Homo sapiens: one gene and its partner. The protein of the gene in region 1 interacts with the protein of each later gene in a pairwise test. Each region holds a gene or a part of one and is shown on either strand. Other genes may lie near its edges.

The links. Proteins that work in one complex are often made in the same cells at the same time.
Region 2: the proteins of C1QTNF2 (region 1) and VSNL1 interact in binary tests that used the Homo sapiens proteins (3 or more experiments, as listed by UniProt).

The regions. Positions count from the first base shown.
Region 1 is NC_000005.10:160,347,249-160,353,647, reverse strand, and holds the end of C1QTNF2 (complement C1q tumor necrosis factor-related protein 2 isoform 1 precursor), read left to right. Parts: intron 1-3,771; coding exon of another isoform or gene 3,772-3,866; coding exon 3,867-4,480; 3' UTR 4,481-5,894; downstream 5,895-6,399. UniProt on the Homo sapiens protein: Involved in the regulation of lipid metabolism in adipose tissue and liver.
Region 2 is NC_000002.12:17,536,592-17,543,704, reverse strand, and holds the start of VSNL1 (visinin-like protein 1), read right to left. Parts: upstream 3,010-7,113; 5' UTR 2,787-3,009; intron 1-2,786.

The sequences.
Region 1 (6,399 bases):
CCACATCTTCCTGGCTTCATCCACAGAGCAAATCTCAGAACAGCCAATTCTCCTTGGCCACATGCGTATCCTGGACCAATTCCCTTGACCAAGGAGGTGAGGTGCCTCCATTTGCAGGGCAGGCTCATGGACCCACCCCTGCGTGTGTGTGAGTGGGTGGTGGGGGCAGTCAGTCATTGTGACTGACAGCCCCGCTAGGACCGTATGAAATGAAATGGTGAAGGGCAACTCCCCAAAGGAAGGGATGCCAGGCAGACGGCGAGCAGAATGGATATACTCTACAGACCTTTCCGTTGTGACATTCCTTATATCTCCAAACTTTCACCCCAGCAACCAAGCACTTTTCAGTGTCAGCAGCATCCCTAAGCCTACATTTTAAGCAGTAGAGAAATATAATAATTTTTATTTGTATGGCATTTTAATATTGACAAAGCACTTTTGAACATGTTGCCCATCTGACCATCCATATCGTGTGCCGGAGGGATTCTTATTTTCCCCATGTTACAGATGAGGATACTGAGAGTCAGAGTGATTCAGTTGATAGCAAAATGTCATCCTCGCAAGAACGTGAACTTTGGAAACAAACCTGGACACTGATTTTGACAAACTACTTAACTTCTCTCCAAACCATGGTTTCCTCATCTCTAAAATATGGATAATAATAGCACCTGTCTCACAAGGTTGTGGTAAAGATGAAATAAAACAATGTATGAAGGACCAGTCTCAGCATAGACATACAATAAATGTTAGGCACCCTGTAATTGACTTATTGAGCTCACATAGCATGCAGATAGCTGACTCCAAATCCAGGTCTTTTCCTACCACACCAAACTAATTCCTTCAAAGGTACCTCCTCCCCAGGAGATTAGTATAAAAGTAACTATCATAGCTTTAACTGGGGTGGGTCTTCCAGCGTGCTGGGCACTGGTATCATGATATCCAATTTCCTGACCACGGCGGCAGACTCAGGTCTGGACATGTGCTCCAAGCAGGCCAGCTAGAGTTTTCCCTGAGATTTGCCTATGGATCCTGAGGGACAGAGTCTCTGCTGTTGACTTCCCCAAATAGATAAAGCTTACCAGGAAGTTCTACCATGTACTGGGGCTGCCTTTGGCCATCTGTTCTGCTGTGTGTTGAGTCTCTGCAGAGAAGGAAGCCACCACACCAAGGAAGGCAGTGTTGGGAGAGTCCCAGCGCATGTAACTCAAACAAAGCTTGTCACCCTGGGGCCAATTCAGGATAACATCCAACCACCCGCCATCACCACACATACAAATTCACCTCCAGAAAAGTCTTTCAAGAGTAAAGTCAGCTTTTCCCAAAGTCTCTCAAAAAAGGTAAAGAAGAGGAAAGCACATTATATAATACATGGTAGGACCTCCTGGTAAGCTTTTTTATCTATTTGTCTCCCGCCAAAAACCCCAAGTCAAAATGACTTGGAGGCTGCGTGGTGGCTCATGCCTGTAATTTCAGCAGTTTGGGAGGCCAAGGCAAGAGTACTGGGAGGCCAGGAGTTTGAGACCAGACTGGGCAACATAGGGAGACACCATTTCTACAAAAAATTTTAAAATTAACTAAGTGTGGTGGTGTGTGCCTGAAGTCCCAGCTACTCAGGAGGCTGAGGCAGGAAGATTACTCAAGCCCAAGAGTTTGAGGTTACAGTGAGCTATGATCGCGCCACTGCACTCCAGCCTGCGTAACAGCGTGAGACTCTATCTTTAAAAAAAAAAAAAAAAAGATTCTGTCTCTATTCCTCTTCTCTTGGCCCCTTTTCCCACCTTTTGTTTATTTTCATTTTTTCAAGAAATAGCTTTGTGACTTTTCTGAGTTTTATTTTTTCCCATTCTTTTTGTTTATTTTTAATTATATGAGTAATATACAAATACAGTCTCATTGTAATATATTCAAACAATACACATAAAGCAAAAGTCCTCCTTACTTACTACCCCTTCTCATCCTTCCCTCACCCTCCAGAGGTAACCACTATTAATTGGTTAGGTATGTATCTTTCCTGGCCTTTTTCTATATATTTACATATGTATTTAATAATACCAGGCATTGTCAGGCACTTAACATAAGCACTCTGTTCCTGAAAATCAAGTGTTCAGTAACAAAATGCAATTTGGAAACCTATTTCCGAATTATGTAAAATAGGAAAAATTCAGATGCATTACAGATTAACTCAAAACTCTAAAACACAGTGAAATGCCTACATACAAATGTATAAGAAACAAAGTAACTTGTTAGGATGTAAAATGCCTAAAACTTTACTTCCTTGACCCAGTTCATATGGTTCTAACAACCTTGTGTCGAGTGAACTCAAGTCATTATCCATATAGGTTTTGCTTAAAATGTTGTATTGAGTTGAGGGGACATAAACTAAATTGATTTTATGCAATCAGTAGCCAAAAATGTTGGATTGAGAGAAATGTGCATTTTATGAAACATTGGAGTATGAAACATCAAAAAGCCTTCTAAAGGAAAACACAACTGGGGGAATTGTTCTGCAGGGAATGCCAGCTAGTATTTAGGAATGTTTGCTATAGGCCAAGCACTCTTCTATGCGTTTAAATGGGTGTAGAAATATTTAGCACTGTGGGCCAGGTGTGGTGGCTCACGCCTGTAATCCCAGCACTTTGGGAGGCCGAGGTGGGCAGATCACGAGGTCAGGAGTTTAAGACCATCCTGGCTAACACGGTGAAACCCCATCTCTACTAAATATACAAAAAATTAGCCGGGCGTGGTGGCAGGTGCCTGTAGTCCCAGCTACTCAGGAGGCTGAGGCAGAAGAATGGTGTGAACCTGGGAGGCGGAGCTTGCAGTGAGCGGAGATCGCGCCACTGTGCTCCAGCCTGGGCGACAGAGCAAGATTCCGTCTCAAAAAAAAAAAAAAAAAATTGGCATTGTGGATTCCATTCCTTTTGTTTTTCTAATTTTTATTTTTTAGAGACAAGGTCTTACTCTGTTGCCCAGGCTGGAATGCAGTGACACAATCATAGCTCACTGTAACCTGGAACTCGTGGGCTCAAGGGATCCTGTCACCTCAGCCTCCCAAGTAGATGGGGCTAAAGGCATATGCCACCATGCCTGACTAATTTTTGTATTTTTTGTAGAGACTGTCTGGCTACATTGCCCAGGCTGGTCTCAAACTCCTGGCCTCAAGCAATCCTCCAGTCCCAGCTTCCCAAAGTGCTGGGATTATAGACGCGAGCCACCTTGCCCGGCCTGCCTTCCTTTTAACACAAAGGGTCTGGCCACCTGCTCTTTCCTCTTAGTGTATGTTAGAGAAGGTTTCATAGAGCACACGTAACTCTACTTTTTTTTTTAACTCCTGCATAGAAATCCACAGTATAGATGGACCGTAATGTTTTTTATCATTTGCCTTTGGATGGGCATTTAGTTGTTCCTATTTTTTGCTATTATAAGCAATGCTGCAATAAAATCCTTGTACACGTGGGCAGGGCTTATATGCACTAGGCAGGGATTTTACTAAGATCAACGTGTTGAAATCAAGAGGCTTTTTCCAGTTCTCTTCTCAACCCATTACCAGCGCAGCCCATGGAAGGATTGAGCTGGCAGACAGACCAGACCCTTCCTTAGAAGGCAGGAAAAGGAAAGGGTGTGAACTGTTACAAGTTATTCTTTTTGCCCTGATCCACAGTGATTCTTGAAGGTAAGTATCATCATTTCCATTTTCCAGAGAGCTAGCATTAGGATTTACACCCACTTCTATATGTCTGCAAAGCCTTCTTGTTCTTTCTATTACCCAAGCACTCCTTCTCCAAGATTGGAAGACCAAGCCGCACCGCACCCCTCTGCCTAGGTCTGTGAGGACCCTCCATAACACCAGCTGCTCTGTCTTCCAGGTCCACCTGGCCGGACAGGTAACCGGGGAAAGCCAGGACCAAAGGGCAAAGCCGGGGCCATTGGGCGGGCTGGCCCCCGTGGCCCCAAGGGGGTCAACGGTACCCCCGGGAAGCATGGCACACCAGGCAAGAAGGGGCCCAAGGGCAAGAAGGGGGAGCCAGGCCTCCCAGGCCCCTGCAGCTGTGGCAGTGGCCATACCAAGTCAGCTTTCTCGGTGGCAGTGACCAAGAGCTACCCACGGGAGCGGCTGCCCATCAAGTTTGACAAGATTCTGATGAACGAGGGTGGCCACTACAATGCTTCCAGCGGCAAGTTCGTCTGCGGCGTGCCTGGGATCTACTACTTCACCTACGACATCACGCTGGCCAACAAGCACCTGGCCATCGGCCTGGTGCACAACGGCCAGTACCGCATCCGGACCTTTGATGCCAACACCGGCAACCACGATGTGGCCTCAGGCTCCACCATCCTGGCTCTCAAGCAGGGTGACGAAGTTTGGCTGCAGATCTTCTACTCAGAGCAGAACGGGCTCTTCTATGACCCTTACTGGACAGACAGCCTCTTTACGGGCTTCCTAATCTATGCCGACCAGGATGACCCCAACGAGGTATAGACATGCCACGGCGGTCCTCCAGGCAGGGAACAAGCTTCTGGACTTGGGCTTACAGAGCAAGACCCCACAACTGTAGGCTGGGGGTGGGGGGTCGAGTGAGCGGTTCTAGCCTCAGGCTCACCTCCTCTGCCTCTTTTTTTCCCCTTCATTAAATCCAAACCTTTTTATTCATCCAACCATCTATTTATTCACTTCTTTTTAAAGTATCTACTGTGTAACAGGCACTATGCTATTCTCTGAAAGATGCAGCAGTGGACAAGACAGAGTATCTGTCCTCATGCAGCTTACATTCTAGCAGGAGATACAATTTACAAATATACAAGCAAATAATATAATATTATGCCAGGATAGAAATGAACATGCCATGGTTGACAGTAATAGGAATAACAGGAGACAGGGAAGAGGTGGAAATTTGTTTCTTTTTTTAAGTTTGCGTTTTTAGGTTTACTTACATACAGTGACTCTCCAGATTTTAAGTTGACAACTCAGTGAATAATTTTTGCTTATGTGCACACTCTGAAACCTCCATGTAGATCAAAGAACAAGCTATTTCCAACTTCTCACCTCCCTTCCCCAAAAGCTCTCTTAAGACCCCTCTAAGTCAGTACCTGGAAAATTTCCATTTTTGAGCTGAGTTCCAAAGAAGGAAATAGAGCAACACAAAGGCCTCGAAAAGAGGTCTCCAGCAAAAGGCTCTGCAAGTGCAAAGACCTTGACAGGAAAGAGGGAGGGGCCAAGGTAAGAACTGAGAAGGGAGGCATGAGGCGTGAGGCTGGAAGATAATACAGAATGTCCCAGGCCATGGCAGAGCTCGTTCCATTCACGAAGGCTTATCAGAATACAAAGTGACACTGATAGGCGGATCATCTTGAATCTGCTCATTGCATGAGTCAAGTCGGCCACAGACTTGAGCGCTTTATTATTAGTTAATCTTTTGCAGGCCCGCTTCTCAATGAATGAGATACACCAGGATATGCACGTGCATCTGAGAACCGCTGCTCTGAGATGGCAGGAATGGATCCCACGCAAATGAATCGCACCCCAAGCACAGGTGTTGCCAGTATGCAGGGATCTGGGGGCTTAAGAAGCTGCAGTAAAAGTGCCAGGTGCTGGCGGGATGTGGTAGCTCATGCCTATAATCCCAGGACTTTGGGAAGCTGAGGTGGACGGATCATTTGAGGTCAGGAGTTCAAGACCAGCCTGACCAACATGGCAAAACATCGTCTAAAAAAATACAAAAATTAGACAGGCGTGGTGTTGGGTGCCTGTAATCCCAGCTACTGGGGAGGCTGAGGCGGGAGAATCGCTTGAACCCAGGAGGTGGAGGTTGCAGTTAGCTGAGATCCTGCCACTGCACTCCAGCCTGGGCAACAGAGTGAGACTATCTCAAAAAAAAACAAAAAAAAAAAAAAAACAAAAACAAAAACGCAGGTACTGAGAGACCCATGAAACGATTTGCTGGAGATAATTTTCAGTTGGAGCTGCAGCTCCCTAGCAGCTTTCTCTGGCTGCCCGCCTAGTGAGATCCTCAGGGACAAGGATAGCTGCACGGGATAGTTCCAGAAGGAGTGGCCATCTCCATAAATAAAATCGGGTTTATTTAAAATAACTCCATTGTCTCTGGGCCATAAATGGTTTGGGATTGGGGTGGGTCTGAAACATTCAGGAAAGGCTTTCTGGCCCAATCAGATTGACGTGTGGGTTGGGGTCCCCTGCAGCACCCCTGTGGGAAGGGGTCAGCTTTGGTCAGTGAACAGTTCTTTTTACCTTTTCTTTTTCTTACAAAAATAAATTTTAGGAGAGCCTTTCGCTTCTTCCTCTTCCTTCCCTCAGGGATATAGGCATTTGAAGGCATTTGACTTAACCCTTTGTAGCCCAGGTAATAAATCCAAACTCAGCAAGATGGGCTGGACCCCAGA
Region 2 (7,113 bases), on another chromosome or scaffold:
AAATGCTTTAAAAGCTTTAAAGGATGAAAAAGCTGCACTACTCTCCTCTATAGCACAACTTCAGGTTAAACCAGTCAAGCCTTCTTCGGTCTTTCTGTCCCTTCCCTTTCCCTTCTCCGCAGGTGGCTTTATCTGGAGGATTTCCAGGAAGGCTGGAGACAGGCATCTCTAATTTGGGTTCTGCCTCCTAGGAGCCAGAGGTGAGCTGGCAAAGTCCACTCTGGAAACCCTGCAGCTTCCTCACTCCACGAAGTCCTAATCTCTGCAGCTGCAGTGGTTTTGGAGGAGGACAGATGGGGAGAAAAGTGGGAATGTAACTGCAGTGTCTTTGAAGGCTGGATTCCCTGAAGGATTTTGGGGAACACAGCAGGGAAAGATGGAAATGGGCCCTGGGCAGTTCTCAAACAGGAACTGCAGATTCTGATACGCTAGTGCTCCCGGCAAACGCCAAGGATTCCAAAGAAATTGTCTGAGATGCAGAGGAGGCCAGAAAAGCCAGACTAAACATCCAAAGAGGTGGGGATATTAGAGGTGAGGGGCAATAAAAAAGAGAGAGAAAGAGACCTTACAAGACAAAGAGAGGCAAGGAAGAGAAATGAGGTGGTATAAAAGGGACCCCTAGAGACAATTTCAAAAGATGTGCTGGAGAGCAGACAGTTATTTATTTGAAGTCTGCAGCAATGTCACTGAGACTGCTGAAAATGAAAGAGAGAAGGAAACATTTCCACTCAACATTACTTTTTAATTGTTTATTCCATAGACTAGAAGTTAATTGACTTTTCTCTACATCCATGGTTCTGGGCCTCAGTTTCCTCATCTACAAAGCAAGGGGTTTGGACTAGATACCTTACAGGGTCTCTGCCTAACTTGATCCTCTCTGTCAACCTATGAGCCAGGGACTCCAAGACCAAGCATTTATCAGTTTTGATACCTAATTCCCCCCTTTTTCCTCTACCACCCCTCTTTATCAATGCAGTGTCAACACCTGCACCATTCATCGAACTGATGCCAATGCTCAATGATGACAGGGAGTATGGCTCAATTATGACAAATGATTAGTCCTTCTGCCCTGGAGTAAGGAAAGAAGGAATAGACAAGGCAGTATGATTTATACTGTGGATTTCCAATGAGAGGTTCTTCTCGAATTTTCAATTACAAATTTCATCCATTTAAATAAATTATAAATTCCTTTGAGGGGTTCCAAATGGTTGGACTGATCAAAGGGCCAAAGAGCCCTATTTGATGGCCCCCACACCCGATTTGAGGGAAAATTTATTTCATTTCATCCCCAAAATTGGATTTGCTTATTTCGTGGAAATCCAGCACGCACTAGCCATGCTTTTTTCTCATCTTTCTGCCTCATGCCCATTCTGCCAACCTGCTTCAGTGCAGCATTTTCTGGGGTTATTAAATACCCAAGGCTTAATGAGAGTGCATTCAAAAGTAAGTTGTTCAATGATGTAGGATCACCCCCTACTCCCCCCCACCACACACACACAAACACACGTAGGCAGTTTAAATGATAGTGGGGGTAAAATGTGTTTTCACAAGAGTTTCATTTTAAATTTGTCTCAACCTGAAATTCCTTTAGAAATTAAAATAAATATTAATATGTAGAAATAAAACTCCCCAGCTTTTCTTGCCTTCAACTGGAAAGTGATACACAAATAGTATGTACTTAGTGTTCTCCACAACCACCAACAATTCTATTTTATTTTAGTTTCCAAAATACGGACAGGAGGGCAACTCTAGAAAAATGGATTCCCACTCTGGCATCTCACAGGGCACTGATCAGGCAATGCGGAGCACTCATCATTTCCACCATGCAGGGAGCATCAGCCTCTCCTCGCTCCTTCCACGTACACATTCTTGTACCCCTGAGGGTATTCATCATTCTGATTTCCACCCGGGGTTTGACCTTGCAAAGACCCTTCTTCCAGTTTCTGGGCAAGGAACAACCCATTTTAACTCAAAACACAAAACGACCTTTTATCCTTTAAAGAAATACTACCAAATGTAACACACCTTGATTTACATTTTTTAACCCCAGATTCCGGATGGCGAACACGGAATGCAAAGGCAGGTAACTAGTTTGGGTCTGACAGTCCCCATTCAGCGACCGAGCCTGTGACTCCGTTCAAAATCGACAGTGCAGTAGAGCATCTTTCCCTTTTCTGCCCATTCACCATTGTGACAAAAATCAAAGACGAAAAAAATTATCTACTCATTTCTGAATACTGAGAGAAATGTGCTCATTTTGCGCCTGACTCCGTGGATCTTAAACACTAACATCCCGCTCAGAGATCAACCATGATTTCCATACCAATCTCATCCACTCAGTTTTACTTAGCAAACACCTTTGCTGCCCTTCCACAGTGAGAAAAATGGTGCACCAATCCCACGGATGACAGGTTGCTACTCGACTGTACCCGCTCAATAGTTTTATCAGCAACCGGAAAACTTCACAATCGGTCAATTAGCTACTTAAATCTGTCTAAGACAAACTAAGAAAGCATCTCAGTTTCACCTGTCTTAAATCTAGTCTAAGACAATCCCCCAAACACGCCGCATATAAACACTCCCCCTTCCCCCACCCCCAATATTCCAAAAGATCCCCCATGGACTAAGAGCACATTCAGATCGCCAGCATTAAGCAAGGAAATTGTCCCCATGCATTTAGACGCATCTATGCAAAGCAAAGTATGTGACAATAGCCAAAGCATTTCTCTGACAGTTGGTTGCACTACACATGCAGAAATGCAACGAAGATTGTATTTTCCACTTACAGTTACAGCGCTGCGCACGGTCACTTAACGAAAATGATAAAACTCAACAGTTCTTTTTAAAAATATATATTTAATTCGGGTAAACGCTTAAGCCGTCTCTGTGTGTGGTTCTCTCTCGCTCTCTTTTTCTCTGGAGCTCTGGGCTGCTTAAATCCCTCTTGGATCGCGCCTTGCAAGCCCAGCCGCTGCCGCAACACGCTCGGGTAAATCTCTGCTGCAGATTGGGAATCCCATAGAAAACCTAGGGTCCCTGGAGCTGGATGCGCAGGCGCGCGAGCCTCCGCCTCTCCAGGCACCCCCTCCCCTTTCCTCTCTTCCCTCCCCCCAGCTCCGCAGCCCCAGCTAGGAGAACTCGGGAGCCTGTGACCAAAAGCCGCCTGGCGATGGCGCATGCTCAGTCGGAGGGGCTCGGAGTTTCCGCGGGTGGATTCCACGTCTCCAGATTTTAGCAAAAGCTCAAAAGGAAAGTATATAGGAAAAGGGAGTCCGGCTACCGGAGCAACCCGCACCTGGACGGGCGCGAGGGACTGCGGGTTACCCGGACTCGCCACGCCCAGTGGTTACCGAACCTGGGGGCTGAAGGCCGAGGCCAGAGATGGAACACGTGGAGCCGCTTTTCCCGCTGCTTTCTGTCCTAGCCGACCCCCGGCCCACCCTTTGTTAGGCTGTAAGGTGAAGGAGAAAACTGCAGAAATCTCCGAAAGAAGACTTCCCAGCAAGCTGTGAGCACGTCTACCTGGCTTACTGAAGGAACGGTTATGGTGGTCATTTTGTCATGGGCCATTTCATCAGAGGGTCTTCTGCTAGGAGTACTGGGAGCCGGGTCCTGCAGCACCCAGTGCCCCGGACAGTCTCGGTCCAGAACGGCGTTGAAAAAATGTGTGTTAAAGGGAGCTGGGATCCGAGGCTTCTTGCCCTGTGTACCCTGAGCCAAGCGCCTTCTGTATGCACTTAAGTGTTTTTAACATATGCTTTGCGTCTGGGGTGGGAGGGGGTGGGTGAAAGGGCGGGAATGAACCATTTTGCGAACCCACGTTTAAGGGCTCTGATTAGGCCATCTTATAAAGCCCCCTTTGTGTCCTTGAACAACTAACAGGTTTGCCAGCCCTCCCCCCGGCTCCCCATTGGCCTGCCAAAGCCTAGAAGGCTTGGCAAGGAGTAGTGCCCAATAAATGTTTGGTCGGTCGCTTCCCTACCAGAAAAGCAAGGAGAATTCCCAGATGTTCCCAACCAGACCAGTTTTCCTCAAGTGTGTATGTTGTACATGAACTCATTCAACAATTATTCATGGAAGCATTTGCAAAACTATTAGACATTCCTTTATGCTTTGGGAATAAGTGCGGTTAACAAAACCCCCTCCTGGGCTTTACATTCAGGTGGGAGTTTTATTTTCAAGGGAGGGAAGTTCTGGGGGCGAGATGAAGATCGAGGTTCTCCTTAAGCAGAGCGCTGTACAATTTGCACAGCGTCTTCACACACCTTATCATGTTCAGGAAAACTGTAGAGTTGACCTACCCTTCGGTGCTGGGGACACCAAGAGCGTCTCCCGTGGCAAATGAGCTCTAAATTGACAAATCTCCAGCTGCTCCTGGTTCCAAGTCGAGGAGTCCAGCTTTGAACAAACTTGAGACTACTTAAGTGGGCACCAGGAGAAACTCCGCCAGACAAGTCTGTGGCTGTCGACATGCTAAGTGAGGGCCTCAGGCAGTGATGCCTAAGCCTCATTCGCTGCCAACCTAGCCAGCCCAGAACCCAGGAACTGGCTTCCCGGGCAGGACGCCTCGGGAAGGTTGCGCAAAGGGGGAGCGCGCTCTCGGGACTCCCGGGACACCGCCCGCGGCTGTCCCCTCTCGGCAGGGCTCTTCCGCCAGTGCTGGTGACCGCGGAAACCCGGAGCGCGGAGTCGCGCGGACCACGGCGCGCGGCCCCGGCGGGCTGCGGCAGCCGAGCACGTTTAGAATCTGGCGGGCGCCAGCCCTTCGCTCTGGAGCCGCAGTGCGCACTGCGCTGCGGGGCTCCCGGGCGCGCCGGGCTGCTCCTGTTTCCTGGGACTGGCAGGGGGAGTCAGTCCTGAATAAGTCACTTTTTCTTTTTAGCTAGAAAAACGACTTTCAAAAGGCTTTCAAAATCTCGTCTTTGGTCGATTTCCCCTACTACAGCATTTTACGCTGAGTTCTAGTTTCTCTCTCGAGAACAGCCTCCGCACTGTAATCTGCATCAACCCAAAGGGTCATGATGCCATTTCTCCACTTCAACGAGATATACCTATTTATTGCACCCTGGAGGTCTCTTTCGTGGCGGTGTTCGATTTTAGATAACTTACTTGCAACTTGTGTTTAGGAAAAAATGTACACTGATACTTTAAACCATGCTCTGTTGTAGGGTACGATTGATATCGACGCGTGCGCTTTTGTAAAGTAGCTTTGTCTACGTGGGCGGGCAGATTTTTTAAAGTTCCATTTGCACTGCAGCGCTGTTTGCGTCCTAAATGCGATATTGTAATGTTTAATATCCAGCTATTATGTAGCTTTATCTTTTTCAGCTTCTAATATTTTGTTGCTGTTTAATTTTTTTGGCATGCCTTTTAGTCGAGTTGTATATACGAAGTCACAGTAAGAAAGCCAATTCTAAGACTCCTAAGGAATATTATCGTTTAAATTACAGAAGGCAAATCCCCTCTTTAGGATGGGAGAATGTACTTGAAGGGAGGAATGTGGCAGGGTCCCTCAGAAGTGAGGGAGCCCGCTGTTCCTCCTTCAGGCATTTGCGGATGGCACTGGTGATCACAAAAAAGCGGAGATTACGCTGCCGGGCGCTCCTGTGGTAGAGGGACTGGAACACTGTCCCATGTTGAGTGAAGAATGCCATCAGCTTTACCAGTTGTCCCGTTACCTAAAGCCACGTCCCCAACTCTACAACTTTCACACCCTGGATTTTTTTTGGGGGGTGGGGGGGTATAGAGGAGGAGGAGGAAGGTGCTGTAGGTAGGGGCTTGTTTCTTCCTTCCTGTGTATCTGGTAGAATCCTCAATTAACCAGAAACAACTGAAGAGCTATTTTTCTTCCTTCAGTTGCAAATTATGTTCTTTATAGAAATTTCTAGCCTTACTTCCACCTTATTTCTTCCCAGATTCAAACAAACAAACAATACCAACAGTAGATTTTCAGGTGTAAAATACTCCATGTAATATTCTCACTCGCTTTGTGACGTGGACGAATTGAAAACGGAGAATGACAGTAAAAGTGTGAAATTCCAGTAGTGTAACAGGTCTAAGCTCATAGTCCTGGGAACTCCTGGTAATATTATTTATTAGAAAATTTGTGTGTAAAATATATGAGCCAAGAAGGGTGGAACTTAAGGCATGGGGATATTTTTTAAAAATTGGAAGAAAACTTGAAAGTCATTATTAGAAAATGAAAAGAGACCGGAATTGAAGAATGGATTTATACTCGTTTATTCTTAAAGAATAATGATAGTAATTTACTTCTATGGATAGCATACCTTTATTCCAAAAGCAAAGGGTATTAATCATTACAGAAAAGGTGTGTTACGTAAGATAATTATATTACGTAAGATTTTTTTTTGTTTTTCTGAGAGAGACAGGGGTCTCGCTCTGTTGCCCAGGCTGGAGTGCAGTGGCAGGATCATAGCTTATTGTGGCCTCAAACTCCTGGGCTCAAGTGATCCTCCCGCCTCAGCTTCCCAAGTGGCTGGTACTACAGACACACACCACCACGCTTGGCTAATTTTATTATATTTTTGTAGAAACAGGTGTCTTGCCATGTTGCCCAGGCTGGTCTGAAACTCCTGGTCTTAAGCAATCCTCCTGCTTTGGCCTCCCAAAGTGCTGAGATTATAGGCATGAGCCATCTTTTCCAGTCCTATTCTGACTTTTTAAATCTTTTTTTAAAAGATGCAGATAGACCAACAAAATAAAATAACTTCCCTATAGTCAAATAGGAAGTATCTCTTAGAATACAGCCCTACAACAGTTTTTCTGACTCATAGACTGTCTCATTGTATATGTCTGTGCCCCTTCTACATGTTTTTCTAAAATACTGAAAAAAATGCAAGACCATGAAGCAGTGATTCCCATGCAGTTAATGGGTGAGTTTTAGGCCTCCTTCTGCAGAGAAGGGAATAAAAATTCTAGTTTTAATGAACTTGATTGATCATGTCTCCCAGTCCTCCTCTGATTTCACTCTGTAATCCATGACTGGATCTAAATTCAGTCTGAAAGATCACTCTGTCTGTAGACACTAATTTCCTCAAAATTTGAACAATCCACAATAAAAGTTTCATAAGGCCCTGCCAGATGAATCACCGT